7 linked regions of the Homo sapiens genome follow. The protein of the gene in region 6 purifies or fractionates together with the protein of the main gene of each other region. This does not show direct contact. Each region holds a gene or a part of one and is shown on either strand. Other genes may lie near its edges.

Region 1 (4,270 bases), on a different chromosome or scaffold from region 6:
TTCTAGACTACTGCCCCATGCCTCTTCTTTCCCCATCTCAATTTCCCACCTCCCTACTTCCCTTCCCTGCCTATACAGAGGACTTCTTCCATGATAGGCAGAATAACAACCCCCCAAAGATGTTCATGTCCCAATTCCCAGAACCTAGAAATACATTATGTCACATGGCAGAGAAGAATTAAAGTTGCAGATGGAATTAAGGTTGTTAATCAGCTGACTTAAAAATAGATTATCCTGGATTATCTGTGTGGGCGCAATGTAGTTACAAGGGTCCTTAAAAGTGGAAGGGGTGGGCAGAAGTCAGTCAGAGGAAGATGTGACTTCAGAGGAGGTCAGAGTGATGTGACATGAGAAGGGCTCCACTCACCTTTGCCAGCTTTAAAGATGGAGGAAAGGGCCAAGAGCCAAGAAAAGCTGACAGCCTCCAGAAGCTAGAAAATGAAAGAAAGTGAACTCTCAGAGCCTCAAAAAGGAACACAGCCCTGCTTGTACCTTGACTTTAGCCCAGTGAGACCCATTTGAGACTAATGCTCTCCAGAATTATAAGATAATAAATTTCTATTGTTTAAGCCCCTAAACTTGTAGTAATATATTACAGCAGCAATAGAACAAATATATTCTCTATCTCAGCCTCCTCAAGCCACTCACAGCTTTTCCCAGGGAGCATGAAAAGGCATTGAGACACAGACTTTCCTTGATGCTTGAATGACAATAATGGGTCATTTACTCAGTTAATAGCAGGTCTGTTGGCTAATGACAGAGAACCCCTCAATAATGGTGGCATCAATAAGATAGGCACTTATTTCTCTGTCACATCAAAGGTAACCATCTCACAGTTGGCATGGTGGCTCCACAAAATCAGTAAGGACCCAGATCCTTCCTGTTCACCCTAGTGTAGCAGTCATGCTAGAGGTTCAAGAGGGACTTCTGTGATCAATGCAGATGCCTCCCAGGCCAGTAGCAGGAGGAAGGAGAGACAAGGCGTATACCTCTTCCCTTCAAGAACATTTCTGCTTATATCTCATTGGCCAAAACTTAGTCATGTAACTATACCTAGCTGCAAGAGAGGCTTGGAATGTATCTTTCGGCTAAATACACCTAGCTAAAATTCAGGGTTCTTGTGGTCTCCACTAAGAAAAAAAGTGTCGTTACTAATGAAGAAGAAAGGAAGAGGGATTAGAAGGCAAGTTGTGATCTCTGCCACAGGTCACCCTGTAATCTGGTGTAGATTCAGGGCAGAAGAGTCACTGGCCAGAATCTCAAATGTCCCAATAAGAATTTGGTAATTCTGTGATAGTCTGCATTCCAGCCAGATGAATGAATTCCAGTTTGGCAGAAACATTCGCTTCACAGAACAGCATCCAGGGGCTTGTAGATTGTGGCTGCATCCAATATTGGATGAATAGAAGAGTTAGGCTACCCTTCTGAATAAGTCAATGCTCTATCTTGGCCCTATGAAGTCTTCCTAGGCTGTTAGATGTTTGTTTAATTGTGGAGCATGTAATTTCCCTGTGAGGCTGCGATGATTGGGTCTCTAACCATGCTAATGAAATAATACTTGTTAAAGTCTCCTTTTATTATTTTGTTTTTCCATGCAATTCTCCTTCCTTTGATCTCCAAATGTGTAAAAGTAGAGTTCAGAGATCTCTGTGACTTCAAAAATTCCTTCAATCTTCCCTCTCATTTTATTGTCTCCAAACTCTTTGAAAATAAATTGAGGGATGGCCGGGCGTGGTGGCTCATGCCTGTAATCGCAGCACTTTGGGAGGCCGAGGTGGGCGGATCACGAGGTCAGGAGATCAAGACCATCCTGGCTAACATGGTGAAACCCCGTCTCTATTAAAAATACAAAAAATTAGCCAGGTGTGGTGGCGGGCACCTGTAGTCCCAGCTTCTCAGGAGGCTGAGGCAGGAGAATGGCATGAACCTGGGTGGTGGAGCTTGCAGTGAGCCGAGATCGCGCCACTGCACTCCAGCTTGGGCGACAGAGGCAGACTCCGTCTCAAAAAAAAAAAAAAAAGAAAAGAAATTGAGGGAACAATTAATTATGCTCCAATTTATTCTGTAAATGATGTTGGGTGGCTTATTTTGTAGTATTCTTCAACATAATATTCTCCATGAAGGGATTTGTATGTTACAGAGAGTTATACCTAATTTCTTCTTTTGTCTTGAAGAACTGGATATCAAGAAATAACTACCAAAAGAGATAATTTATAGACTTTTGCTTTTTGGTCATTAAGACAATAATTATTTGTTGATTTTAGTTGGTAGGTTAAAAAAAATCTATGTACAGAATTTGTTACGGGTTATTCTTCATTTTCCAGGTTTTCTGTGTGTTCTTTTTCTTTTTAAGATAAGTAACCTGATCTTACTTCATCCTTTGGTAAAAAGATTGTCCAAAGCTAGCAGAAGTCATTATTTTTTATATAATATCTTCAGAACAAGATTCCATTAGTGTTGACGAGGCAGTGTTTAATGTTTCTGTTTCATGGGTCATGCACTCTAGTCAAATCAAAGCACTTAGGTTTTGCTTTATCCAATAGGATATCAGTGATCTCAAGGAGCATATTTACACAGGTAGTCCTAAAATTGCATATGACACCTTGACACAAAGTAAGATTTGTTCAGAATGTGGGGGAAGTGGGCATCAGCAACGGGAATAAAATAAGGTATTTTCCAAGATGAACAATAATAATAAAGTGAGATGGTATGTCAAGAAAGGATAAGAAGAGAAATGAATGTGGGATAGGATTTGAAGGGGGAGGGGAGCACACATGGAGAAAGAGGTATGGCAGAGACAAAGAAACCATCTCGCAATCTGCCTAGGAACAGAACTCTACTCTCAAACCCTGGCCTCAAGGGATCCTCCCACCTTGACCTTTCAGAGTGCTGGGATTACAGATGTGGGCCACCATGCCCAGCCAAGAACTCTACTCTCAAAATGTTTATGTTCCAGATTTATAAAAGAAATCAGTTAATAAGTTTGTTGTACTTCATTTAGAATAACACTGGTGAACTAATTGTCATATTTAGAGATTAGGCATGGCAATCCCTCCCATTTGGCATGATAGATGTGTCCCTGAGGAATTATGAGTAAAGTAGATCGTTGTGACTCAAACTTTAATTTCAAATAGAGTGGGGAGGAATGGCTATTTACAGCAATGCTGGATTAAGTGACACTGAAAAGCCAAGCCTCCCACTATAGTGTCTCTGTAGTATAATACGCTGAGGTGGTCACAGTTAACCAGAAGGATGGGGTTTGAGCCCACTGGGAGAACATTTGGTAATATTCTTTGTGTGTGTGTTTTTTTTCTCTCTAAAGAAGGGATGGGGAAGTAGGGAGAATTGGAAAATCAAACCTCATCCTCTGCTCTGCCTGCCAGTCAGAGGTAATACCGACCAAGGATGGAGAGGGCTGGAGAAGCCAGGCCTGGCTACAGCCACTGCTTTGAGATCCCCTAGTTACGATGAACTTGCACATTTGCTGGCTCATGAATTCTCTGGTACAATCTTCTTTTTGTTTTCTTTTCTAGTGTTTCTGAAAGATCTATCCAGCACTCCGATGGCCAGCAACAACACCGCCAGCATAGCACAAGCCAGGAAGCTGGTAGAGCAGCTTAAGATGGAAGCCAATATCGACAGGATAAAGGTGAGGATGGTCTAACCCCACACTTCATCTAGCGTGAGTCTAAGGCGCATGTCATGTGACCACTCTTTCCTAGAGAGGGATAAAACCAGTAATGACAGGAGAGCATCTTAAAGATTAGGCAGAAGTTCATTTCTAACGTGTCTTTCCCTTCTCCAGCATAAAATAATAGAATGAATTAGATCCTCTTTCCCATGTAGAATTAAAACCTAACAACACAACACAAAAAAAAAAGCAAAACAGGCTCATGGTTAAATTCCAGTGAGAGAAATTAGAGAACACATAAAATATATCAGCGCACTAGTTCCCCTCCCTGTCCTCATGGAAACGTTTTTCTTATTTGGTTTTTAATTTTTTCTGTCCTGGTTCAGGTTCTAAGGCTAAATGTCCGTATTTTGGGTCTAACACTTCTAGTTATCCTTGCACGTTATAAGTTTTTTCTTCTTTATACTTTATTGAATTTTTTTCCTGCAAACACAAAAGTCACACCTTGCCTCCCTAAGAAGTCAAACAACAAAGAGGTTTAATGAAAGTTCATAGTCTATGTGTTTCTTTTTTTCCTCTCCCTCCCCAGACCTAACCTGACAGCTTTGCTGTAAGCTGGGGCTAATTCATCTGGAACCA
Region 2 (4,270 bases), about 47 Mb from region 6:
CGTGGGTCTGGCTGCAGGAGGAAGGCGGTGGGAGTCCATGCCTCCGGGACTGGCAAGACCTGAGTGTGCATAAACAAGTCTTCCATGCCAGGGTCCCTTTCTGACTTCACTCATGGCCCGTCACTGGTGGGAGTGGCAGTGGCCCTCAGAGTAGCGGAGCCATCATCTCAGGAATGAGACTGGTCCTGAGAGAGGACCCCTCCCCATGGGCTACCAGCACCTCCAACAGGGACCTCATCTCTTCTGCCACAAGCTGCGCCTGGCCCAAAGCAGGGCACACAGGAGCCTGGGCAGGCAGGCGCTGACCCATTGGCATCCCTCTGGTTTAGCCCTCTGTTCTCACAGCAGGATGGTTTGTGTATGGGGCTTGTCTCCCCCAGTAAACTCCAGGCTGTGGGTGGAAGGACCAGGGTCTTGCGCCTCTCGCCGTACCCATCCCAGCACAGCCCTTACTGAGTGGGTGCTTGGTCTCTCTCTGGGCTTATCCTGAAGGCAGCTCAACTGTGCTCAGGGAGACTCAGGGTCCTAGCCCCCTGCAAGTGGTGGTGACAGTTCCCACCTAAGCCACCTGGAGGCCCGAGGCATCTTACAGCCTCTGCTTGTTCTCCACTGAGGATCATCATTTATGAGCCCGTGGCTCGCATGGTGATGGGTGCGGGGGGGGACGGGGGGGCGGGAAACTGCAGATCGTGGCTTTAAGAACTGGGATCGCACCCCCCAAGGAACCCAGAGATTCCACAGAAGGACTGGGGCCAGGACCCAAAGGACAGAAAGATAAGAGAAAAAACTGGGCATCAGAAGTCGAGAGAAAATATTTTACTTAAAGTTAATAAAATATATACAATACAATTCCTGGTAAAAAAAAAAAAAAGAAGGTGAAGGTGAGGCAAAGGCGGGGAAAGGTGTGGGAAGGTCAGAGGAGGAGAGGGGGTAGCAGAAGGAGTAGAGAGGCTGGTGAGGAGTGGGCTGGGGTGGGCGAAGGGCTGGTCGGTGCAGTCCCGTGAACCACAGACAGGGCTGACTCTTCTGAGCTCAGGGCATCTCTGGAGCACCCACTGTGTGCACAGCCCTCAAGATGTTTCAAGGGACAAAAATATCTGAACTTAGAAACCCCGAGCAGAGCCCCAGGTGGGCCATGGCCTATTAGAGCGTCTGTGCCCAGGGACCAGGACAGCCCTCCTGTCCCCACTAATGTCTATGTGAGTCTAATATCCAAACCAGCACTCATCCCTGGAAATAGGCAACGGGAGGGAGGAGAGGACACAAAAGAAAAGCAGGCGTAAGTCCCACTGCCTAGGTGGGCCACTTCTCCCAGACCCCCATCCTCCTCCCGTGGCCCCCTGACTCTTACCAGAGAGGCTGAAGCTGGATTCGTGAAGGTCCCTCATGCCCCCATGCCGGGTGACGGGCCGGGTAGGAGTGTCTGCGAGTGGGGTTCCCATCTCTTTTTTCCCAGGGTGCACGACAACAGCGACATCCCCCAGGTAGGGAGTGCGGTCCACTCCTCTAACCTTTAAAGTCTAGGGAAGGATGGAAGAAGAGCAGAAGAACAGGACAACACCATCAGAGCTGAGTGATACAACCATGGCCTCCCTGGGGGCCGGTGGGACATTAGACACTGCCACTCTGCCCAAGACCCAAATCACTGCAAGTGACCAAGGCTTCTTAAACATTGAGTCCAGGGGCTGGAGTTTTCTCATACCTCCTAAAGAGCATGTGCATATGTGTACATGTGTGCATGCGTGCATGTATGTGAGTGCACATGTGTGTGTGCATGCATGTGTATGGGAGAGATACTGGCTCCCCCTCAACACTGATGGAAGCCTCACCGAGGTAGCAGGTAGACATCTGAGGAAGTCAACTTTAACCAAATTTTTCTTTTCTTTTTTTTGAGACAGAGTCTCACTCTGTCGCCCATGCTGGAGTGCAGTGGTGCGATCTTGGCTCACTGCAACCTCCGCCCCCGCAAAGTGATTCTCCTGCCTCAGCCTCCCAAGTAGCTAGGATTACAGGCGCCTGCCACCGTGCCTGACTAATTTTTGTATTTTTAATAGAGACGGGGTTTCACCATCTTGGCCAGCTGGTCTTGAACTCCTGACCTCGTGATCCACCCGCCTCGGCCTCCCAAAGTTCCGGGATTACAGGCGTGAGCCACCATGCCCAACCGGAAGTCAATTTTAGAGAGCGCCCTCCCACACAGCGCAACGTTATTCCCCACCTTAGGCTCCCACGAAGCCACACCCTTTACTGGTCTGACAACTCTGAGGGAACAGAGGCTAAACACAGCCCCATCTGGAGATGAGAGGCCCCCAGTAGCAATACTAGCTAATTCTGTACTCACAAAGGCAGTAGAGTTAGGAGTCTATATTCTACAACCAGACTGCCTAGGTTCCAATCCCAACTCTGTCACTTGTAAACTGTGTGGCTTTGTGCAAGTTACTTTTCTGTGCCCATAATACTATACCTACATCAGAGAGTTGCAGGAGAGCAGACGAATTAATATGTGTAAAGCTGTTCCAACTGCTCTGGCACATGAGAGGCAACACAGAAGTACGAGCAGTTATTACTGCAGAGGTCATTTATGGTCCTACATCGTATTAAAAAGTGTTATTGGGCCGCGCACAGTGGCTCACGCCTGTAATCCCAGCACTTTAGGAGGCCGAGGCAGACGGATCACTTGAGCCCAGGAATTTGAAAGCAACCCGAGCAACACGGTTAAACCCCGTCCATCTCCACAAAAAAGTAAACATTAGCTGAGTGTGATGAGTAAGAGACCCTGAGTTTGCTTTTGGATTTAGCCCTGCGATCACGAAAGTCACGCTTTCTTCATTCAGGCAGCCCAAGCCTGCGCTCCCACGGCAGACCTGGCAGTGGATTTCTTCACTCATTGGCCTCTGGGAGAGAAGGGTCCTTGGTTTCTCTGAAAGCTCTGAGCCCTCTCGTGTGCTCTGTGTGCCAGCAGTGTGGGCCTCCCGTGTTCAGGTGCCTGCTCCTCCTGTGCTTCAGACAATGCTTTGCAAATGCCAGCTCTACCCCCCGCTTGCTTCATCAAGAGTGGGAGGGAGCCGAGCCAAAGCAGCATCTCCAGCCCCCAGCACCTCCTCCACCCCAAGCCTGCGTATCCAGAGGAGCTCAGCGGTCGCACACACTCACATTTCCCACTTGTGCCCTCAGCAACTCAGGAGCCCTGCTGCCTGACCACTTAAAATGCCACTTGGTAATCAAAGACGGGGAACAGAAATCAGCATTTTCTGACTCTAGCGTTCCCTGGCGCTGCCGCACACTCCCCTCTCAACGCTGGAGAAAGTGCAATGGAATTGGGTCGAAAACTGGAGTGAACATCTCTTTGAGATTTAAAACAGTCATGGAGGATGTTCCCCGGCAGGGGGCGCCAACACCCCTGCATCTTCCTCCTCCCACCTCACCTTCTCTCTCTGGACCAGCTTCTTGTAGACAGTGTCTGGGAAGGACCTCAGGGGACAGAACTTGCCGGTGCCCTCGGCGCACATGAAGACGCCGTTCTCATACACGACGCGCCCCCGGCTGATGGTGACCAGTGGCACGCCGTGGCAGCGCATGTTCTCATACAGGTTGAAGTCTCCTCCCTGGACCTGCGTGCTGGCTGAGATGGTCCTGGTGGGGAGGCAATGGCGGGAGAGAAAGCGCTGAGGACAGGTCAAAATGTCACAGCTCCATGGGAGGGGTGAGCCCCAAAGGCTGGTTGTTATGGGTTGAATTGGCTCCCTTCAAAATTCTTCTGCTGAAGTTCTAACACCCAGAACCTCAGAACATGGCACTATTTAGGGCCTTTAATGTAATCATTAAGATAAAGTGAGGTCATATAGGTGGGCCCTAATCCAGTCTTATCGGTGTCCTTATAAGAAGAGGAGACAGACACACCAGACATGTGTGACACGGAAGAAAGACTGTGTGAAGATGGAGGGAGAAGATGGCCAACGGTAGGCCAGGGCCATATTTTGTGCTAGAAATAGTGCAAAATTATATGCTTTTGGAGATCTGTAATGCAAGTCTTCTTCAAAATCCCAAGCCCCTCTAGCCCTGGGGACGAGCAACAAACTTTACTTTGTGGCTTCTGGGTCCCACACCACCACATCAGCATCGGCTCCGGGAATAATGCGGCCCTTGCGGGGATACAGGTTCAGAAGCTTAGCTGCGTTGGAACTGGTAACGGCCACAAAACGGTTCTCATCCATCTTTCCTCCAACCTGAAATGTTGCAGAAAGTGTCAAGTCAACCAGGCTCTGGGGGT
Region 3 (4,270 bases), on a different chromosome or scaffold from region 6:
ATAGGCTCAAGCAATCCTCCCACCTCAGTCTCCTGAGCAGCAGCTGGGACTAGAGGTACTCCCCACCACACAGGGCGTTTTTTTTTTTTTTTTTTTTTTTTTTTTTTTTTCTGTACAGACAAGGTCTCATTATGTTGCCCAAGCTGGTCTCGAACTCCTGGGCTCAAGCTTCTCCTCCCTCAGCCTCCCAAAGTGCTGGGATTACAGACATGCGCCACCTCTCCTAGCCGTCTCCATTGTTTATGTGCATACAAATCCCCTGGGAATCTTGTTAAAATGCAGAATCTGATTGGGTAGTGTGGGGGAAAGGGGTGGGGCTGAGAGTCTGTATTTTTAATAAGCTCCGGTGTGATGCTGATGCTGCTGTTCTGAAGACGCTGCTTTGAAAAGCAAGGTTCCCACTTTGAGGAGCAAGGCTGCAGATGACATTCTTCAGGCTAGAGAGGCAAGTGGATGCCTATCATGGACCCTTGAGAGTCCACAATGACTCCTCAAGGATGACAGACATGTAACACTCTGTAAGTGCATGCCACATGTTTCCCCAGGCAGACTTCTAGTCCATTCCAGTGCTTTTCTCCCTGTGTGTGACAATGGTCTCAAGTTCCTTCTCAGCAAGCTTCCAGGCAGTCCTGAGATGGAAACCACCTGCCATCAGAGCTCTGAATTATTATGCATCCTCAGGCCTGAGCTAAACTGGGTACAGCTATGAGATCTGATGGGCGAAAGAGGATTCTGTGGAGTTTTGTAAGCACTACTGAAACTATCACCCCATGCCTGTGACCTCCACATGGGACTCAGTAAGGGCCCTTTGACCTCTGTGGTCAAAGGTAGTTTTTATTTGGGAAGAGGAATGAAAAGTCATTGTTTTTATCCCCAGATCATGACTTTGCTAATCAGAGTCACTTTGGGCATCTTGGCCCTGGGGACAATTTTTAGAAAAAATAGATTTTGCCAGGGAGTAGGCAGAAAATTTCAGAGAGTTCTGGAGCTCTAGGGGCAGCAAGGCAGGTGCAGAGGACAGAGAAAGGAAAGCAGCTGAGGGGAGTCGCCTCCAAATGGGAAAGGTGAGAGCAGAAAAAGACACTGAAGCTTCACCTGAGCTGCTTTACAGTCTTGCTCAGGACCAACCCTGCCAGAAGTTCCTAACATGTTCTGGATAAGGTAGGGTAAGTACTCTAATCTCAGTCAAAATAAGAATGAAAACAGACTCACCCAGTGTGCTGGCCCTTAGGCTGATCCCATCCCTCAGGGATGCTTCTGGACAGGCTCCCTGAGTCTGTCTCAAACCCACCCAATGTGCTTACTGAACTCCATAGCTGACTCTGCAGCGACTTGGTCTGGGAGGTAAAGCGCAGAGTTAGGGTGCTGTCTAGGATTATGGGTGTCCCTGGGGTAAGCTGAGCCATTTCATTCCCAAGAAATGCTCACTGAAGTGTGCTCTGGAGACAAGAGGGGAGCCATCGTCTGCCCTCCTCATCATGGTCCCCTGCCTGCTGTCATCCCAGCCCAGGTCTGCTCCACCAACTGTGCTGGGGCTGTAGTGCCATGTGCCTCACTGCCGGGGACACGTAAGTTCTTGGGGGAGCTAGGAAAGGCCGGAGAGATGGAGCTGTTTTTGCAAATGGGAGAAGAGAGGCCCTGAGATTTAACACGCCCAGGTGAATATTTAGTAACAGTAGACAGCAGGTGTCTTTTCACACCAGCAAAAGTCTTGAGGTCTAGCAACCTCTCCCCAGCTTGCTTTGCTCCCACAGTGGAAGCTTTTCGTAACTCTTGACATAGTCAAAATGGAATCGGCACCAACTATGAAAACATGCACACCCCTCACATACATTTCAAGCTCATATGATCTAAATATTTGGTGAATTCATAAGCCCAGGAATCTTAGGACAACAATAACACAACATTTAGAAATTGGCATCCCTGCAGATCACATTAGCACAACCTCCTTAAAGGAGAGCGCATGGAGCTGTTTCAGGAGTTGCAGAGGTGTTGCGGGGAAGAGCACTTACAGACAAGGGATAAGTTTATTTTTGCCAGAAGTTTTAAGGGGGCTGTGTATTTATTCATTATCAATCTTCTTTGGGGCTGGATTGTTCCTTCTCCAAGTCTGTTCTGGCCTCAGTAAGTTTGTCTCACGTGGTCCTTCTAGATGCCACTGGCTTTGTGCCTGTGACTGGCCATAGGAGGTGTCTCCCAGCTCAGATGCTCCACAAAGGCTGTTGTCAAGAGTCTGACAACATGATACGCTCCTTGGTGTCCTGGACCAGCAGCTTTGTTTATATTCTTCTCTCACCTGAGTGCTCACCTACCCCATCTCCCCTCCTCCTTGGACTCTTACCCATGTGTTAAGAGCAGATCAAAATGTTACCCTCCTCCAGGAAGCCTTCCATCATCTTCCCTTCTTCTATTGCTATGTGCAATCTCCCTCCCTCTGTGCTAGCAAGGGGCTCCAACCCAACCTCTCTCATATCACTTCCTTCCATTTACCTTGAATTCACACCCAGAATGTTCTCCTTTTAGATGTGAGGGTAGCAGTCACATCTATTTTTTGAATCCCTGATAGTACCTAACATAGGGTCTTGAATACAGTCAACTTCACTTAGTTTAAAGAATTTATTCAGGAATAACTGTCCCCCAGTTGCCCTCTCATTCTTTCCCTCTCTCACCTTTATTCTGCACTGCTCCAATTTATAAAGTTCCCCTTTATCCTTTTATATGTTTTTTTTAGTTTCCTCTTTTCTTTTTCTTCTCTCTCTCTTCACATAATTAAACATATTCATGTGAAACCCCTTAAAGACTTAATCTGTCAAAAGATTTGAGCTTTTCCCTTAGAAACCATGCAAACCCACCCACCATTGCAGACGATCTCAGAGGTTTGGGTATTTAGAAGCTGATCCATAGACCCCAGGTCATGGAAATCCCTGCTCTTAGGTGACTGCCTCTTCATCCATCCACTCACTCAGTCATTCATCAAATATGTATAAGCAACTAATGTGTACCAGGTATTGACATTGACCTAATCCTTTCCCTCATGGTTTTTGCTGTGAAATAAGGCAGACATTAGTAAAATAAAGAAATACATGTAAAACCATTGTTGAGAAAAGTGCTAGAAAGAAGAGTGCATGGCTTCTGTGATGATATAGTGGGAGAGTTAGGTTTTGCCAGGAGGGTTAGGGTAGGCTTCTCTGAGGAATGATGATTGCACAAAGACGTGAAGAAAGCATAGGGCTTAAATAAATCAGGGGTGAGCAAAACACCATGTGGAAGCCCAGAGTGGGAGCGTGGCAAGGAGGTCAACAGAGTGTGGGGGCGTTCAGTACACAATGTGGCTCTAGAGCAAGCAGGGAAAGACCACTGAGGCCTCACAGTGTTTAGGGATCTGTATTTCTCCAACGAGCAACAAAAGATGGAAGTGACATTAAATTTGATTTTCCTATTCACATTCATTTCCCAAATTTACCTCTCTTCCCTTCCTTACTTGCAGTCAGTGGTGTTCAGAGAATTGAAAAGTAGTCATTTGCAACATACCAGAATCTCTGGGAGACAGCTAAAGCTGTGTTAAGAGGGAAATTTATAGCACTAAATGCCCACATCAGAAAGCTAGAAGGATCTCAAATCGCCACTCTAACATCACAATTAAAAGAGCTAGGGAAGCAAGAGCAAACAAATCCAAAAGCTAGCAGAAGAGAAGAAATAACTAAGATTAGAGCAGAACAGAAGGAAACAGAGACACAAAAAACCCTTCAAAAATCAATGAATCCAGGAGCTGTTTTTTTGAAAAAATTAACAAAATAGACCACTAGCTAGACTAATAAAGAAGAAAAGAGAGAATAATCAAATAGACACAATAAAAAATGATAAAGGGTATATCACCACCGACACCACAGAAATATAAACTATCATCAGAGAATACTATAAACATCTCTATGCAAATAAACGGGAAAATCTAGAAGAAATGTATAAATTCCTGGACACATACACCCTCCCAAGACTAAACCAGAAAGAAGTTAAATCCCTGAATAGACCAATAACAAGTTCTGAAATTGAGGCAGTAATTAATAGCCTACCAACCTAAAAAAGCCCAGGACCAGATGGATTCACAGCCAAATTCTACCAGAGATACAAAGGGGAGCTGGTACGATTCCTTCTGAAACTATCCCAAACAATTGAAAAGGAAGGACTCCTCCCTAACTCATTTTATGAGGCTAGTATCATTTTGATACCAATGCCTGGCAGAGACACAACAAAAAAAGAAAATTTCAGGCCA
Region 4 (4,270 bases), on a different chromosome or scaffold from region 6:
AACACAGAGATAAGTTATCCTGGGGAATGAAGATCTTGTACTTAGAAATGTTCCATTAAAATGTGCCACCATGTATTCTTAGATAAACCACTTCGCATCTTTGGACTTTGATTTTCTAAAATTTGTCAAATGAGAGGATTGAAATATATTCTCCAAGATCCTTTCCAGTACTGTATTATTTCCGTGGTTCAGTTTTTGTGCCATTTTCTTTTAAAAGCATTAGCTCTAATTTTTTTCTATATGGTAATGCCTGTAAATCTTTGGAAGCAGAGACATACGTCAATAAATGACTAAACATTTCCCGGAATGAAAAGCTCACCTTTGAATGGTCTTAATTCAGTACCTCCTTGTTACATTATTGCTACCATATGTTATCGTGAAAAAAGAGGCTAATCCTGTGATGCCTGCTGTGTATATTTCCTCATCAATGATGGGAATTGGGACTTGTGGCTAAATCTATGTGGGAATCTAAAACAAAAGATGACAATGCCACCTGATAAGCTTGCAGAAGTTCTTACAAGATTTACAGGTGTACACATAGTGGGAGTGCCACTAAACACACAGAAAAACCAAGATACAACTCTGTCTTGAGGCTACTGCATTTAACCATGACTTCACTCTAGGTGGTGGATATGATCCTGAAAAAGCTGTGTATATTGAGTTTTTGTAAATTGAATAATTTCAAAAACAGTGGGGCACTCACTATTTAAATGAATTGTGGAAAATCTTTTGCAAGAGAAATTGCCTTTTTTATAAGAAAAAAATTGTTACCTAATTTTTTTTAGCTTCCCACATAGAAGCAATTGGGTATCATAAAGCTACAATATCTCTTTAGAGAAAGGAGAGGATGATCTAGAAGGCTTTTCTGTTCTGCAGACACTGCTTCAATACAGCAGGAAGACGTAGTTTTTAGTAGGGCAGTGACCTGTGGAGAGAATAAAGTGAGCAGATACCACAGGTGCCTGAACTCTAAGGATGTCCATGCTGCATGACTAAGAATAGGAGGATGTATATGGGCCTTGGTGTTTGTTGCTTGACAGCAGGCATTTCAGAAATTTTAACCAGTTCATGTAAGATTGTAAAATAGATTAGATTCAGTCACCCTGCCCTTCTTTCCTTTTCAGCAGCATGAAACAATGTGAGATACAGGATTGAGGGTCAAAAGACTTCGAATTGAGATCTGGCTCCACTGTTAGCCTTATGGCCTTATCAGGTTTACATAATCTCCTTGAGCCTTTCTCCCATCTATTTGACAGATTTCCGCTGGAGGTCTACTATATATCAGGCACTGTTCAAGGTTCTAGAATAACAGACAAAAATTAGTTTCATTACCTGTAAAGTGGAGATAACATTATGTATTTCTGATACCACTGTTGTGATAATTAAATAAAATAAGGTACCATAAAAGCATTTTGTAAAAGCTAAAGAGCCATACTAGTAGTTAGTGTTACATCTTTCCCTGTTTCCAGCCGCAGGTATCTGATCTACCTTGGTTCCTTTTTTGAGTTCCCAAAATTTTGTTATGTAAGTGATTGTTTATTTTGCACACTTCTGGGATGAGGAATCTTCTTTTTGTTGTTGTTATTTAGTTGAGGGCCACCGACTCAAGACAATATCATCAAAGGCTTTCTTTTGTGTTTTTCAAAAGGCAATATAACTTAGTTTTTTTTTTTAATGACAAAAACATTACCCATTAACTCAGCTATATTTAATAATTAGGGGCAGAACCACATAAATCTTAATTTTATTTAATAAGTGAATTCTAAAATAGCTCTCCTTCAGTTTTACTTGTAACTAATTAAGGAAGGATGGCTACAGAGGAAAATGAAGGAAGAGAGAAATACACAGAAGGCCTTTAAAAGGTAGTGCTTGTATTTGTTTCCCTATCCAATCAAAGCCTAGAACATTGCTTTCAGAATATTTTTAAGCAAAACAAAAGCATTCACGGATCTTAGAAAGTTAGCTTCTTTCTTAACATTCTTCCCTAACACGTAGTTGCTCATTGTGCTTATTCACAGTTTGCCTCCAGCTTTTCAGACTCATTTCTCACTGTCCCCTCAATCCTGAATTTTGCTGTACTCTGGATTACCCTCTCCCTGCACACATGCTGGACTTTTAAGACCTGGTGCTATTATTGCACAGCTGCCTTTGTTTGGAATGCTCTTGTCCTGGTTCTCTTACCTTAACGTTGATTTTCTTTATTTCATTCTCCGAGGATAAAGGCATTGCCTATTGTTGAAAAAGACTCATCTCTTGTCTTCTGCATGACCTTGCTTAAGATTTCATCTCTCTTTTTCCTTCTGTTCATATTCTCATTTTCTACTGATTGCTCTTTCTATGGGTTGCTCCATTCTTGTAAATAAAGTAACAAATGAAAAACTCATCCTCACCTTCCTAATCACTCTTCCAAACATGAAAGATAAATCTCACTCGTTACTTATCCAGTTATTTGCCCTTTTCCACTGACACTGGCCTTCTGCCTTCTCTGTAATATTGATACTGTTCTTGCTAGGGAACCTAATTGCTAAATCCAGAGGAAGGTGTCAAATGTTCACTGATGTGTTTGACACTGTATATCTTCCCTTTGGAAGTCGCTTGGCTTCAGGACACTGCATTCTTTGTTCCTTTTTAAAATTTTTAAATAGTTTTGTAAAGACAAGATCTTGCTATGTTGCCTAGGCTAGTCCCGAAGTCTTGGCCCCAAGTGATCCTCCTGCCTCAGCCTCCCAAAGTGTCAAGATTACAGGCATGAGCCACCACCCCCAGCCTCTTTGTTCTCTTCATACTTGTTTTATCGAAGTTTCTTTTCACTCTTCTTGTTCTTTCCCTTTGTCTACCTCATTAAATGTAGATGTTCCTCCGGGCCCCCTTTTCCTGCCCACTTCTTTTTTTATACTGCATATTCTCCCTGGTCCATCTACTCTCAAGGTGTCAGTTACCTCTTAAGTACAATCAGTTCCCTAATCATTACCTTTAGTCCAAAACTTTGTCCTCATCTTTAGACATATGTGCAGCTGCCTGCTGGACATCTCCATCTGGGTGGTTAAGAGTCGTTTGATCCAATATTGAAATCCATGTTTTTCCTTCCTATTCCAGCTCTTCTATTCTGTATTTTAAGTGGGACACCGATGGTCACCTATTTCAAGTTCTCATTAACTTTCACCTAGAACTTCTGCAAGTCTCATCATGATTTCCATTTAGTAACCTGAATGAACTATTTAAAATGCAAATTTGACCTTTTTACTCCTTTGCTTAAAGTTTTTCAGGAGCTTCTTACATCCTATAGGTAGTTTATGGCCCTCCTGTGATTTGACCCCTGCTTTCTTCTCCTGCCGTCTCTAATTATTTCCATGTCCAGACTTCCTTTTCCAGCAATACTGAACTGTTTGCACTTCCATACACACATTGTTGCATTCCTCCTCCTTGTCTTTACTGTCTGCTACTACAGTTTCCCTTCCTCCCCTTTCCTTTTCTTGATTAAATTCATATTCATCTTTTGAGACTGAGTATTTCCTTTTCCAGAAACTCTTCTCTAACTCTCTAGATTGTATTGAGCGTCTATGCCCCCTCCATGCCCTCTTTCAATACTGCAAGTATCTTTATCTCTGGACACAACACAATGGTCTGTTTATGTGTCTGCTTCCCCACTAGATAGTGGGTTCTCTGAGGACAGACAGGCTGAATGTTTCATTCCTTTTTGCATCCTTAGCATCCAGCATAGGGCTTGACACATAGATTGAGGACAGTAAATCTTTGCCATATTGAATTGAGCAGCAAGAGAGTCAAAGGATGAGATAAGGGATAGAAGGTAACAATGAAGAGAGGGAAGTATCCTAGGATTAGAAGTATATGTTAATATGTTGGAAGTCATCCTTACTGTCTTCAAATATAAGCTTTAGAATGCTTTCACTCTTATGTCCTATGAAATATAAATTAATTACTAATTTTCAACCATACCACATCATAAATCTTTAGAGATTTAGCTCTGAATGAGAGAGCCATAGCAGCCCACAATACTGGAAAGTATTATCTAGTCCATGGCAGCTCTGAGCAGAGCAAAGGCAAATGGAATAAAATTGAGGACCAAGTTTCTCTTACCATATATTGACACTTGGCTCTCAAGGAACCATTTTTCTGAAAATTCGGTCTTCTTTTTTCCTCAGTGTGAAACTCCAACCTCAGGCCACCCAAGCTGTGTGTTTCTTTCTCTTTAGTGAAAAAGTTCCTTTGGGCTATTGCTTTGTCTATACCTTTATGAGTTTTGTGTGCC
Region 5 (4,270 bases), on a different chromosome or scaffold from region 6:
CAGGGAGACAGAGATGGACACAGAGACAGGGACACAGGAAGAGAGGGACATGGAGAGACAGGGACACAGATACACAAAGGTCAAGGACACACAGACAGGGACACGGGAAGAGAGACAGGGACACAGATACACAAGGTCAAGGACACACAGAGCCAGGGACACAGAAACAGTGACAGAGACACAGAGGCAGAGAGAGAAGCAGGGACAGAGAGACAGAGGCAGGGACAGAGAGAAAAAGACACATCCAGGACCCAAAAAGACAGAAATAGGCAACAACTCAGAGACAGGGTCATGGAGAGCAAGGTCAGAGAGAGAGCAGGGACACAGCAGAACCAGAGAGACTGTCACAAACAGAGAGGGACACGGAGGACAACGGAGACCCAGGACCAAATGCAGACACTGAGGTCCAGAACCAGCCGGAGCCCAAGGCAGGGCCTGGGGCAGGCGAGCAGCCCAGCGCAGAGCCCCCCACCTCCAGGCTCCCCGGCCCACGGGCACCCACCAATCTGGAAGTAGGAGTAGGCAGCCAGGGGCTCGTTGACCAATCTGTCACGCTTTGGGTTGCGTGGACGCAGGTGCATGATGTCACTCTCGGCCTTTTCATATGCCAGGGACACAGATGGGAACTGGCCAGGAGTGGAAGGAACTGGGACTGAGGGTTTGGCTGGGCCCTTGTCCCCTCCACTTCGGGTCCCCCTTCCCCCACTTGTGAGCAGGAACAGGACTGAGGTTAGCAGGCAGGACCTGCAGGGACGGCACAGCCACACCAGCCTGGACAGCCTGGGCCCCACTGGCCCCTGGGTGTTGGCATCCTGGTGCCCATCTTCGTAAGAACATCTGCTTTTATCTTCTCCCTCTGTCTCCCTCCCTCTCTTTCTCTGTTCCTCACTCTGTTTCTCTGTCCCTGTCTCCAGTGTAATTCTCTGTGACTGTATCTGCTCTTGTGTATTTCTGTGTCACTCCCTATCTCTGTGTATCTTCAGTCTCTCAGTGTCGCCGTGCCCCTTCATCTGCTTGTGCCTAGAGTGGCAGCAGAGCATACTGACCACGACCACAGGCTGTGGGACCTGTGACTGCTCAAGCTCAAGTCACAGCCGGGCCACTTATTTGCCCAGTGACCTGGGACAATCCACTCTACCTGTCTATGCCTTGATGAGCTCATCAGTAAAGTACGGGTGATAGTAACAAAACTCATCTCATAGTGTGGTTATGAGTACAAAATTAAGGAAATGATGGTGTGTCTGGCCCAGAGAAAGCACTGTGTAAATGTTACCGAATAAATACCTGTCAACACAGCTGCGCCTCTGGCTGCATTCGTGACTGTATCTGTGGTTCTTTTCTGTCTGTCTGCCATGGGGTCTATCTGAGGGGGTTTATTTGTCCGTGTCTGTTTAGGGGCACGTGTCTGTGATTCAAGTTTGGCCAGATACCTGTTCTGTTTCCATCTCTGTCTGAGTATCTGTATCTGAGTCATGTGTGTGCATGGGTCGGCCCGGGCCTACCTGAGTGTCCGCCTGTGTGTGCATGGCTGTATGTCCATTTAGGTCTGTTCACCTGCCTGCCACCCATGTGTCCTGCACTGGCTGTCATTGCACACACAGGTCTTGTCTGTCACTCTGTGCCCAAGAGTGTCTGTGGTGGTCTCTGTCCCTCCTGTCCATCTGCAAGCAAGTGTCTCTGGGCACCCTGTGGATGGGTACCCTGGGCTGTGGACTTACAATGTCAGTGCAGAGTTCGATGAAGAGGATGGTGATGCACCCGAGGGGCAGGGGCACGCTGACGGTGATGTAGATGAGGTAGGGTGTCAGCTCTGGGATGTTCTTGGTCAATGTGTAGGCAATAGACTTCTTCAGGTTGTCGAAGATCAGTCGACCTGTGGGGTAGGGTGGGCACCTCAGCCTCCTCACAGCCCTCTCCCTCCTGTGCCCACACTGCCTGCCCTCCCCCTGGCGTGGCTCGGACCCTGCTCCACGCCTGTCACAATGGAGGCAAAGTTGTCATCCAGCAGGATCATGTCAGCTGCATTTTTGGCAGCATCTGAGCCAGCGATGCCCATGGCTACTCCGATGTCTGCCTTCTTCAGAGCTGGGGAGTCATTCACACCATCCCCCGTGACGGCCACAATCGCACCCTGCAGGCAGTGGGTGCAGGTGGTGGGTGGGTGGTCAGTGAGAGGCCGGTCCAAGACCAGCCCCGCCTGTCTGCCCGCCTGCCCACCCTCATCAGCAGGGCTCACCAGCCGCTGGCAGCTCTCCACGATCACCAGCTTCTGCTGGGGGCTGGTGCGCGCAAACACCATCTCGGGGTGGGTGCGCAGGGCCTCGACCAGTTCCGATGGGTCCATGTCCTTCAGCTGCATGCCATTGATCACACAGGCACGGGCATCCCTGGGGAGGAGATGGGAGGACCTCGCTGGGACCTCGGTCTGTGCCAGATGTGGGGAGAACCCCGGGGAGGTCTGGGGGGGCTTACTTGCGATTAACCTGGTCTACGGGCACACGGAGGCGGGCAGCGATGTCCTCCACTGTCTCGCTGCCTTCCGAGATGATGCCCACACTGGCTGCAATGGCCTTGGCGGTGATGGGGTGGTCACCCGTTACCATGATCACCTGTAGGGGGAACCAGTGGATCACTGACCCCTTCAGATCAGCCCAATCTCCCTGTCCTCCCTGGGAGACATCTGCTGATACACGTGTTCATTTACTTGACCAAGCGTGACCACCTCCTACGTGCCTGGGATATAGCAGAGACAAAAGAGACAAAAATCCCTGTCCTTGAGGAGCTCTAGTGAGGGTGACAGAAAATAAAGAAACGAATTATATAGTGTGTTAGAAAGTGGAAAAAAACATATTAAGCTTGGTGAAGGAAACGGTGACTCGATTTTAAGTGTACCCAGGGAAGGGCTTATTGAGAAGGTGATATCTGAGCAGAGACCTGTAAGAGGTGAGAGAGTCAGCCACGTGGAAAGCTGGGAGAAGAGTGCTCCTGGCAGGGAGAACAGCAGGTGCAAAGGCCCTGAGGTGAGGACAGGCCCGAACTGTCGGAGGAACAGCAGGGAGGACACCATAACTGCAGAGGAGTGAACAAGGAAAGAGGGCTAACGAACAAGCTTAGAAAGGTAACAAGGCCCGATGTAACAGGGCCGTAGAGACACGGGAAGGGCTTGGGCATTGCCTGCCTGGCCTTGGCTTTCCCACCCTTGTTTTGTGTTTGGGGAACCACTCCTCTCCCCTACACCATCAGTTGCAGTGAGGTCCCTGGCTAAGATTGGGTAAGTAAGCCCAGACCTGGCCAATCAAGGTCTTCCATCCCCCAGCCCCAGTGACTGGCTCAGGGATAAATGAGTGACCCAATCCAGTGCTACTGCAAAAGAGGCACTCTCTTTTTGTGGGGTGGCTAAGCAGGTGGGAGTTAAGTTTGAGCTGCTGGAGCAGGGGTGTGTGTGTCCCCAAGTGAAGGGAGTGCCTGCAAATAAAGCCAGCAAAGAGAACAGCAGAGCTGAGACATGGAGAAAGGAAAATTCCTAATGACACTGAGCTCCTGGATCTGGCTAGACCTGAAGCTTAATTCCCCAGAATTTTTCAGTATCATAAACCAATGCATTTTGGTTCAAGCCAGTTTCAGGTGGGTTTGTCATGGGGTTCTTCAACCCAAATCCTGCTGCCATCCTCTGTCCTCACTCCACTTGTTCCTCCCCACAGTGGCATACCCGGATGCCTGCGGTGCGACACTTGAGCACAGCATCAGGGACGGTGGCCCGGGGTGGGTCAATCATGGATACAAGTCCCGCAAAGCAGAGGCCGCTAGATGGAAAGTTCATGGCCTCTACGTCGAAGGCATAGCCAGGCGGGTAGTCCTTCTCATTCAGGTAGAGCTGGCAGAAGCCTGACCGGAAACGGGGAAGTCAGGGAAGAGCCCTGGGCACACCCTTTCTTAGCAGGGCCAGGAAATGGGTAAAATAACCAGGCCCCTTGCACCAAACACCTATGGATGCCTGACCTTGTGCTGACCCCTTCACTCACATTATCTGAATCTACCCTCACAACCACCCTGTGAGGCCCATTCTCATCTTACAGATGAGGAAACTGAGGCTCAGAGAGGGGACATTTCTTGCCAGAGGTCACACAGCAAGTAAAAGGCCCAGAATTGGACCACAGATCTGCTTTCTAGGGTAGAGGCAGCGAAGTTTAAGGCGTCAGGACAAAAATTGGGAGAGGTTAGAGGTCAGGATACGGATAAAAGTCCAGGTGAGGACTGGGGTCAAGGTAGA
Region 6 (4,270 bases):
CAGAGGTAAGTACTATAACTGAAATGATGATCTAGGCTGAGAGCTTGCCCTCAAGTTATATTCCAACCCCAAGACTGAGTACCCAGGATCATACAGGCTCCAAGCTTAAAGGCATTCTAGGCAAAGTTAATAAAAATCAGTCAGCAGGCTTAAAAAAAACTTAATACATTTTACTTTGATGACCTTTTTTCATGAAAAACTGTTTACGAAAAAAAAAAGGCAAAAAATTTTCTCACACCTTCCTATGATCCAAACTCATCTGCTCAGCACAAAAGACCCTCACTGATCTGACATCCCCTCCTCCCGCCTTGCCTACCAGGTGATTCAGCTTTCCACTGCCACCTTCTCTGTGAAGCCTCCTTGAACTCTCTCCAGCGCCACTTCATCTCTAGGCAGAGTTAATTACTGCCTGCTCTGGTTTACCAAAGGATTACGCTGTAATTATTTGTTCACTCATCACTCCCTCCAGCTAGACTGGGAGCTCACTTTTGAAGACAGAGACTGAACCTTTGCATCCTGAGTATGAGAACAGTGATGGAGGGAAGGAGGTGAGTCACAGGCACAGAGAATCCACTATACAGTATTTGAAATAAATAGGCTATTTTTTCCCAAGGATTCTTTGCCCAATCATTTATACTTAAAATAAGTAAGACACATATTAGTGATGTGAAGTCACTAATTTTGAATGCTGGAGGAAACATGTTATTAGGGAAGCCCTCTACTGCTTTATGTTTAAGTTTCTTGATTGAAAAGTGCAAAAGAGTTTCCTCTTTTCTGGTTGGGTCTTTGAAAATAAGGTAAAAATGCTGAGATGACTCACTGACAGTGAGATTTCATACAGCAATCTTTTCTTCAATTTACGCTTGTAATCGTAAGATAATCACAAGAAGATGATAATACACTGTAGGGATGAACAGTCTTAAAAGACAGGCTAGGTGTTTTATTTTTTAGATTTTCAGGGGTTCTAGGTACCAAGCTTTTGACTTTCAATCACACATCTTATATGGCTTCGTAAGTCATGCTAGATGCCATTAGTTGCTACTTCACTGATCAATTTTCCTTACATGCCGCTGTCTGCACCTTCAGGATCAGAATAATAGGACTTAGAGCAGAAGGAATACAAGAAAAGCCCTCTAAACATACCCAATTTTGGTCAGGACAGGGGTTCACCTTCCCTGTTCAGGTTTCCTGAATGGGTGCTCTCATTCTGATTTGCTTGAGGATGTTACCTGTGATTAGAGAAGATGATCACTCTTGATTTAAAAAGCAGTTTAATACATTCCCTGTGTGGGTACCAATGCCTAACTTCCACATGGATATCATAGCACAGGATTCAAGAATCTGGTCAGTACTGAGTACACTGGGTCAAGGCGGGGGTTAGGTGTCAGCAATACAAAGATGAACAGCACACTGAGTGGTCAGAGCCCAAGGAAGGTGGTGAATGTGCAAACAAGCTCAGCAGAACTCAAGTGCTGCAGCAGTTGTGGGTACAAAATGTTATGTCAGCCCACAGAGGAGGCAGTGACTAATTCTGTCTAGGGAGAGTCATCAGGGTGTGTGGGGTGATGAAGAGTAGTGGGAGATGAAAGTAAAAAGAGTCAGATTAGGTCCTCCCATTCCACTTCGCATCACCCTTTTCTTGGGCAATTGCATTTACTTCCAAGGCTTCACCAACTACCCCTCTACCCACCAGTCAACAACTTCCACATCTGAAATCTCAGCACCCATCTCCGGACTCTCTTGACCTCAGGCACATATTCCAATCTGTCTCAGAACACCTCTATGTCTCACAGGCACCTCATACAAAACATATCACTCTAACCTCCCCAGACCGCCTCTTCCTTTATTCCCATCCTCATGAACCTCAGTGTCACCCTCCTCTACTCCTCCTCCTACCTCACCTCCAAGTGGCCACCACATCCTGTCAATCCCGCTTCCAAAATCTCTCTGAAACCGTCACTTCTCTGTCATTTCAGTTCTTCTATTCAGGCCTGCATCTTTCCTCCCTCCAATTACTCCAATAGCCACAAAACTAGTGCACAGACTCAACTCTGTTCCAATTCATCTATTCATTCATCCAACAAACTGGATGCAAGGCACTATGGGTACTGCAGCAAACAAAATATACAAAGAAAGTGCCTGTTTTATGGAGCTTTCTTTCTCATCCTACACAATTTCCTTTTTTAAATTAATCTGGTCATGGCACACACTGGCTTCAAGTGTTCAACAGCCTCCCACTGCCAACAGGATAAACTAGCATGGTCCACAAGGCTCTTCGACATATGGCAAATCCCACCCTTCCAACCTCTTGTTCTGCCACCCTTTCACAGGTCCCTTCAACTCCAGGCACATCCAACTACTTCTCTTTCATTAAAACTGCATGTGTTAGCTAGGCGTGGTGGCACATGCCTGTAGTCTCAGCTACTTGGGAGGCTGAGACAGGAGAATCACTTGAACCTGGGAAGCGGAGGTTGCAGTGAGATGAGATCACACCACTGCACTCCAGCCTGGGTGACAGAATGAGACTCCATCAAAAAAACAAACAAACAAACAAAAAAACCCCCAAAAAACTGCATGTGTTTCTTCAGGCTTCACCACCTTGGCACATGTTGCTTTCTATGGCTGAAACACTTTTCCCTCTTCTTCCTCTTGGGAATTCCTACCCCAGAGATTCTGGCTTTCCATGCCCAATCACAAATCTCACCACACAGTATGAAAATTATGTCGAGTCGGCCAGGCACGGTGGCTAACGCCTATAATCCCAGCACTTTGGGAGGCCGAAGCTGGCGGATCACGAGGTCAGGAGATTGAGACCATCCTGGCTAACATGGTGAAACCCCGTCTCTACTAAAAAATACAAGAAATTAGCTGGGCATGGTGGCGGGCGCCTGTAGTCCCAGCTACTTGGGAGCCTGAGGCAGGAGAATGGCGTGAACCTGGGAGGCGGAGGCTGCAGTGAGCCAAGATCACACCACTGCACTGCAGCCTGGGTGCCAGAGCAAGACTCTGTCTCAAAAAAAAAAAAAAAAAAAGAAAAAAAAAAAGAAAATTATGTCGAATCTGTTTTCTCCTACTTAGTTGTGAGTTGTGAGCTCCTTGAAGGACAGGAGCTGTATCCCATTCACTGCTGTGCTCAGCATGAGAGTGGACTCTTAGTCCTCACTCAGTAAGCCTCTGTTGCACAAGAAAGCAAGGAAGAAGCAGAGAAATTTGACAAGGTTAAGAAGCAAAAGTCAGGAAAATAGAGGGAGTTCAAACCTTATCTGATGACCTGTCCTAAGTACTTACTTTGTGACATACCCTGTTCTCTCTCTGGGATTTGAGGACAGAGCTTCCTTTAGGGGTGTGTTTCTCAAAGTACAGTACAAAACATCATATTTAAATAATAACATCATCAGGCAAATAGCAGGACTCTCCCTTCCCATTCCTTTCAATGTTTCGGATTTGGCTGGAGAAAAACACACAGCCATGGTGACTGGTCTCACTTTAAATTCATGACCACTAACTCCAAGTGGGTCCTAAATGGTACCCAGTAATTCAACATTTCTCTTGCTTATTCACTAGAGTATTTCATGTCTTCTGTCTCTACATTCACTCTTAGCTGATGACCTTTCTTCCTACTTCACTCTGAAAACAGACACAACCAAAAGACCTTCCCAAGTTCCCACCACACCCTCTGAAGTTGGTGCTCATATATTTTGCCATCACGCCTGTTACTAGGGATGAATTGTGCTCCTAGCTAAGACTAAATTATTTCCCACTGGGCAATAGATTCCATTCTTTCTTGCTTAAAAATCACTCCAGCAATTCTATCCTCTGTCCCGATTTACCAATTTTCCTCCTTTCCACTAGACCACTTCTGTCAACTTAAAAACATGCTCTAATTCTTTTCACAAAAAGAAAATTAAAAATGTTAAACACTCACACCCTCTTCTAATTTCAGCTACCACCCCATGACTTCCCTTTCTAAAAACTTCCAGTTATCTTAACCCACTCTCCTCACCTCCCATTCTCCTTGAACCTATACCAATTAGGCTTTCACTCCTAACACTCCTAAAACTGTTCTTTTCAAGTTCACCAAAGACCTTCATTTACTTAAACAGTATAACACAGCTGATCATTCCCTCCCACTGAATACCTTCTTCACTTGGCTTCCAGGATATCATTCTCTTTTGTTTTTTTCTCCTACCTCAGTAGGCATTCCTTCTCAGTCTCTGCTTATTCCTTCCCATCTCCCCAGTTTCATAATATTTGCATGCTCAGGGCTCAG
Region 7 (3,500 bases), on a different chromosome or scaffold from region 6:
AGCATCTGTTTTGTTTCTGCATGGCTGGAGGGTAGGGCTGTCGGTCTAGCACCCATAAACCAAAATGAGGCAGGGATTGGGGCTTGCCCTATGATGCTCTGATGACCAAAGCAGATGCGTAGAGGCAAGCAGCATGGTATTGGGCAAGAGGACTGGACTGGGAGTCCAGAGATGCTGCTTCACCCTGGGCCTTTAGACACGTCTCTTTCCCTCCCAGAGCCTCAGCATCCCTTCTATCAAATGATGACATTCTGCCTTTTTCCCAGGGCGGTTGTGGGGATCGAGGGAGACAGTGGCTATAGGGATGCTGTGTTAACTGCAGATGCAGCCGTAGGAGCACTTTGCTAACTGCCAACGTGAGTTCAGATTCTTCAGGGTATTTGGCACCCAGGTCTATGGTGCGGTGTGAGATCTGTGATGTAAGGTTTGATGCCTGCCCCAACTCCAGTCTTGCTAACACACATGAAACATTTGGCAAATCATGACCCTACCTTGGGGAAAAGAGCAGTCTGGGAGAGCTTCTTCAAGGCAACCTGACTTCAGTGCAGTCTGAGGCATGGCTGAGATAGGCTTACGTGGCAAGGAATCAGGAGGGTATCTGGGCCAAGAGCTGCAGTGTGGGCAGAGGTGTAGTGTGGGCTGCAACGAGGACAGCCACTGGACAAAGCAGAGAACAGAGACAGAATGAGGAAGAGCTCTGTGGGCAGGGTGGGGCGCAAGGTGGAGAACCTTCAAAGTCTGAAAAGTTTGACTTGTTGGGGCTCAATGCTGTGGGCAGTAGGGAACCACAGAAGGCTCTTAGGTGGAGAAATGACAGCTGGACTTTAGCGAGCAAGCCCTATCTCCATGAGCAGCACGGGTGATCCTCTAAGCACACCAGGCACGAGTGTGCAGGGAGCTGGTGCAAATGCCTCTGTGTGCGGGTGAGCTTCTGTGTTGTGACTCTGCCCACACGTGTGCTTCAGTGTGCTGAGTGGCTGCATGCCCCAGATCCATGCTGCACGCGCCGCCGGCCAGTGAGGGTGCTGGGCACTGGGAGGTGGCGGGGAAGGAGGCGTATGCGTGTTGTTTGTGGGCATGTGTGTTAGCGTGTGCATGTGGGCCATGGGGCCTCACAGCATGTGTGTGCACGCCCGGGCGTGTGCGTGTGTGTGTCCCCCACCCCCAGGCCGGCCCCACCCGTGCGTGTGAACTGCCATGTTGATTTCGTGCTGTCTTTCAGAATCACTATCAGTGACCCCTGAGGAGCGTCAGCCATGGTAGGTACATGCCTCACCGCCTGCTGCATGAACGGTGTGTCTGCCCCGCTGCACTAGCTCCACACGGGGCGCGCACCTGGGACCTCAGAGCCAGGCTCCCCGCCCCTCCCTTCTGCAGCTGCAGACTTGCTCTTTCCTCTTTCTGTCCTTGTGCCGCTGGCTCTCTCACCTCCCTTCCCTGCGAGCCTCGGGACTCAGTGCCACTGCCCAAGGCCTCCATGGCTGAGCCTGGAGGCTCTTGGAACAGGCTCCGCGCCCAAGCTGGCAGACATGGGTGCTCTCTGGAGCCGTCAGAGAGGGCAGAGAGCTCGTGGTTTATGGTGTAAAGGCTGGGAGCTTGGAGGGGGTCGTGTGTGGGGCTGGACTCTGAGGCGGCCAGAGGCCTAGGAACGTTATCCTGGGCACACCGTGCGTGGTGTGCAGTCTGAGTCATGCTCCCTGGGTAGGGCATCCAGCTCCCAGCCTGGGAGTGCTGAGAGCCAAATCCACCGTAGAGCAGGGGTGAGAGTCAGGGTCCCACCTCCTCTATCTGCCGGCAATCCAGTGGTGACCTAGGGTAAAAGCTTGAGAGTCCCATACACACGGTCATCCCACGACATACCTCACAGGCCAGGCAGGGACACACAGCCCCCTTCCCTCCCTCCCAGGTACCGTCATAGCTGCTAGTGTGACTGAAGGCAGTGTCCCTGGCCCCAGCTGAAGCACCGTAGCCAGCCAGCGGGCTCACGCACCTTGGCCTGTTGCTCCTAGGGTCACTTGTGCCATTCAGCCAAGGGGACGACCGTGCCTGCTGGCCCAGCTGAGCTCCGCCCAGTGAGCCCACCCCCCATTCTCCTGCCACTGACTCTCGCTCTTCTGCTTTTCCCAGCAGGAAGGGCCCAGCCTCACCTACGAGACCTGCAGCCCCCCGACCAGCTGAGGCTCCCCTCTTAGACTTATAAGTCTATGGCCACTGGCATCCGGCTGCCTGCCCTCCCTGCCTCCCCCAGGGTCCCTTCAGAGGGTCCTGGGTTTTCTGAACACCCAGAGGGGCCTCCGGCGCTCCCTCCAGCCATCCCTTTTAGTTTCACCCTCCTGGTTCAAGCAGTGTTCTTTCTCTATCAGGCCTGGTGGCTGTTGCATGGGGCTCCCCAAGGCAAGGGGTGGCCCCAGGCCAGTGGGTTGGAAGACAGGGTGACCAGAGAAGAGGGAAGCCCGAGGGGGCCGAGCATCAGCCTGAATTGCGGGTGCCCTGCCTGGGTGCCGTGTGAGAGGCCAGCGTGTGTGGGGTGGGGAGGGCCGCCACAGCCCCCAGGCGCTATCTGTGAAGCTACGGCTCCTCCCTCCATCTTCCTCCCCTTTCCCTTCCAGCCCCTTTTCCAGGAACCTTGCCACACCCACACCTGCAGCCTCCCCTCCCCGGCCCTCCCACCACTGCTGCGGCGCGGCCGGCCCCGGCCGTGTGCTGCGCTTGCCTTACCAGCTCTCTCCTCGCTTTTCTCTCCCGTTTTCTCTCTGCTTTCTCTCCAACTGCCAGCCGATCGGGTCAGGCAAGTCCATCCCGTCCTGAGAGCCCCAGGCCCCCCTTCGACCTCTAAACAGATCCCTCCTCTTCTCGGAGACCTCCCTTTCCAAGCCTGCCTGGACGGCTGTTCTGTGACTTGACAGTGGCTCCCCCAGCCCCAAAGCCAGCCCCCTTCATCTGTGACTTAATCTGTTGTAGTGGTGAGCTGATACATTCAGGTGTGACCGTTGGTGAAAACTTGTGCCCCTTCTGTGGTATGCCCTTGCCCTGTTCTATAAATATCTATAAATACTCATATATATACACACCTACACATGGCCAACCGCCTCGCCTCTAGCGCTGGGAATCAGTCACTGTGCTATCCTTGTGGAGTCTTGTGGCCCAACTACCAGAGAACGCTGTCCCCCGACATCCCACTCCAAAGTGTGCCACCTCCAGTGAGCCTCCTTGTCATGCCCGGCCTGTGGACAGCCAGCCCCCGCCATCCCTCCCACCCCCTACCAAGCATGGGGGTGCTGTGCAGGCAGCCGTGTGGCCTGACAGTTTCTACCAGTCCTGCTGTCCCTCGGCTGAGAATAAAACCCATTTCTGGATGATGGGGAATGTCTCCTCTGCTGGTTGTGTTCTCTCTGGAGCTCAGGGGAGGGGAAGGGCTAAGCCATTACTAGGGTGCTGCTGGGGGTGGTGAAAAGACCACATCTTTTCCAAGGGACATTTTTCCTGGAAAGCCCCTGGAG

The links.
Region 1: the proteins of DGUOK (region 6) and GNG2 purify together in Homo sapiens (affinity purification with mass spectrometry; 3 studies listed by BioGRID and IntAct, with this or other methods). This does not show direct contact.
Region 2: the proteins of DGUOK (region 6) and DPYSL5 purify together in Homo sapiens (affinity purification with mass spectrometry; 3 studies listed by BioGRID and IntAct, with this or other methods). This does not show direct contact.
Region 3: the proteins of DGUOK (region 6) and NCALD purify together in Homo sapiens (affinity purification with mass spectrometry; 3 studies listed by BioGRID and IntAct, with this or other methods). This does not show direct contact.
Region 4: the proteins of DGUOK (region 6) and SYN2 purify together in Homo sapiens (affinity purification with mass spectrometry; 3 studies listed by BioGRID and IntAct, with this or other methods). This does not show direct contact.
Region 5: the proteins of DGUOK (region 6) and ATP4A purify together in Homo sapiens (affinity purification with mass spectrometry; 3 studies listed by BioGRID and IntAct, with this or other methods). This does not show direct contact.
Region 7: the proteins of DGUOK (region 6) and DNM1 purify together in Homo sapiens (affinity purification with mass spectrometry; 3 studies listed by BioGRID and IntAct, with this or other methods). This does not show direct contact.

The regions. Positions count from the first base shown.
Region 1 is NC_000014.9:51,947,117-51,951,386, forward strand, and holds part of GNG2 (guanine nucleotide-binding protein G(I)/G(S)/G(O) subunit gamma-2 precursor), read left to right. Parts: intron 1-3,533; coding exon of another isoform or gene 3,534-3,562; coding exon 3,563-3,649; intron 3,650-4,270. UniProt on the Homo sapiens protein: Guanine nucleotide-binding proteins (G proteins) are involved as a modulator or transducer in various transmembrane signaling systems.
Region 2 is NC_000002.12:26,941,906-26,946,175, reverse strand, and holds part of DPYSL5 (dihydropyrimidinase-related protein 5), read right to left. Parts: intron 4,227-4,270; coding exon 4,084-4,226; intron 3,634-4,083; coding exon 3,426-3,633; intron 1,521-3,425; coding exon 1,352-1,520; intron 1-1,351. UniProt on the Homo sapiens protein: Involved in the negative regulation of dendrite outgrowth.
Region 3 is NC_000008.11:101,693,242-101,697,511, forward strand, and holds part of NCALD (neurocalcin-delta), read right to left. Parts: intron 1-4,270. UniProt on the Homo sapiens protein: May be involved in the calcium-dependent regulation of rhodopsin phosphorylation. Binds three calcium ions.
Region 4 is NC_000003.12:12,010,501-12,014,770, forward strand, and holds part of SYN2 (synapsin-2), read left to right. Parts: intron 1-4,270. UniProt on the Homo sapiens protein: Neuronal phosphoprotein that coats synaptic vesicles, binds to the cytoskeleton, and is believed to function in the regulation of neurotransmitter release. May play a role in noradrenaline secretion by sympathetic neurons.
Region 5 is NC_000019.10:35,553,204-35,557,473, forward strand, and holds part of ATP4A (potassium-transporting ATPase alpha chain 1), read right to left. Parts: intron 3,886-4,270; coding exon 3,710-3,885; intron 2,610-3,709; coding exon 2,473-2,609; intron 2,388-2,472; coding exon 2,237-2,387; intron 2,132-2,236; coding exon 1,963-2,131; intron 1,874-1,962; coding exon 1,719-1,873; intron 627-1,718; coding exon 503-626; intron 1-502. UniProt on the Homo sapiens protein: The catalytic subunit of the gastric H(+)/K(+) ATPase pump which transports H(+) ions in exchange for K(+) ions across the apical membrane of parietal cells.
Region 6 is NC_000002.12:73,929,557-73,933,826, reverse strand, and holds part of DGUOK (deoxyguanosine kinase, mitochondrial isoform a precursor), read right to left. Parts: intron 1,230-4,270; exon of another isoform or gene 1,144-1,229; intron 1-1,143.
Region 7 is NC_000009.12:128,251,879-128,255,378, forward strand, and holds the end of DNM1 (dynamin-1), read left to right. Parts: intron 1-1,222; coding exon of another isoform or gene 1,223-1,244; exon of another isoform or gene 1,245-1,259; intron 1,260-2,130; coding exon of another isoform or gene 2,131-2,200; exon of another isoform or gene 2,201-2,775; coding exon 2,776-2,836; 3' UTR 2,837-3,366; downstream 3,367-3,500. UniProt on the Homo sapiens protein: Catalyzes the hydrolysis of GTP and utilizes this energy to mediate vesicle scission and participates in many forms of endocytosis, such as clathrin-mediated endocytosis or synaptic vesicle endocytosis as well as rapid endocytosis (RE).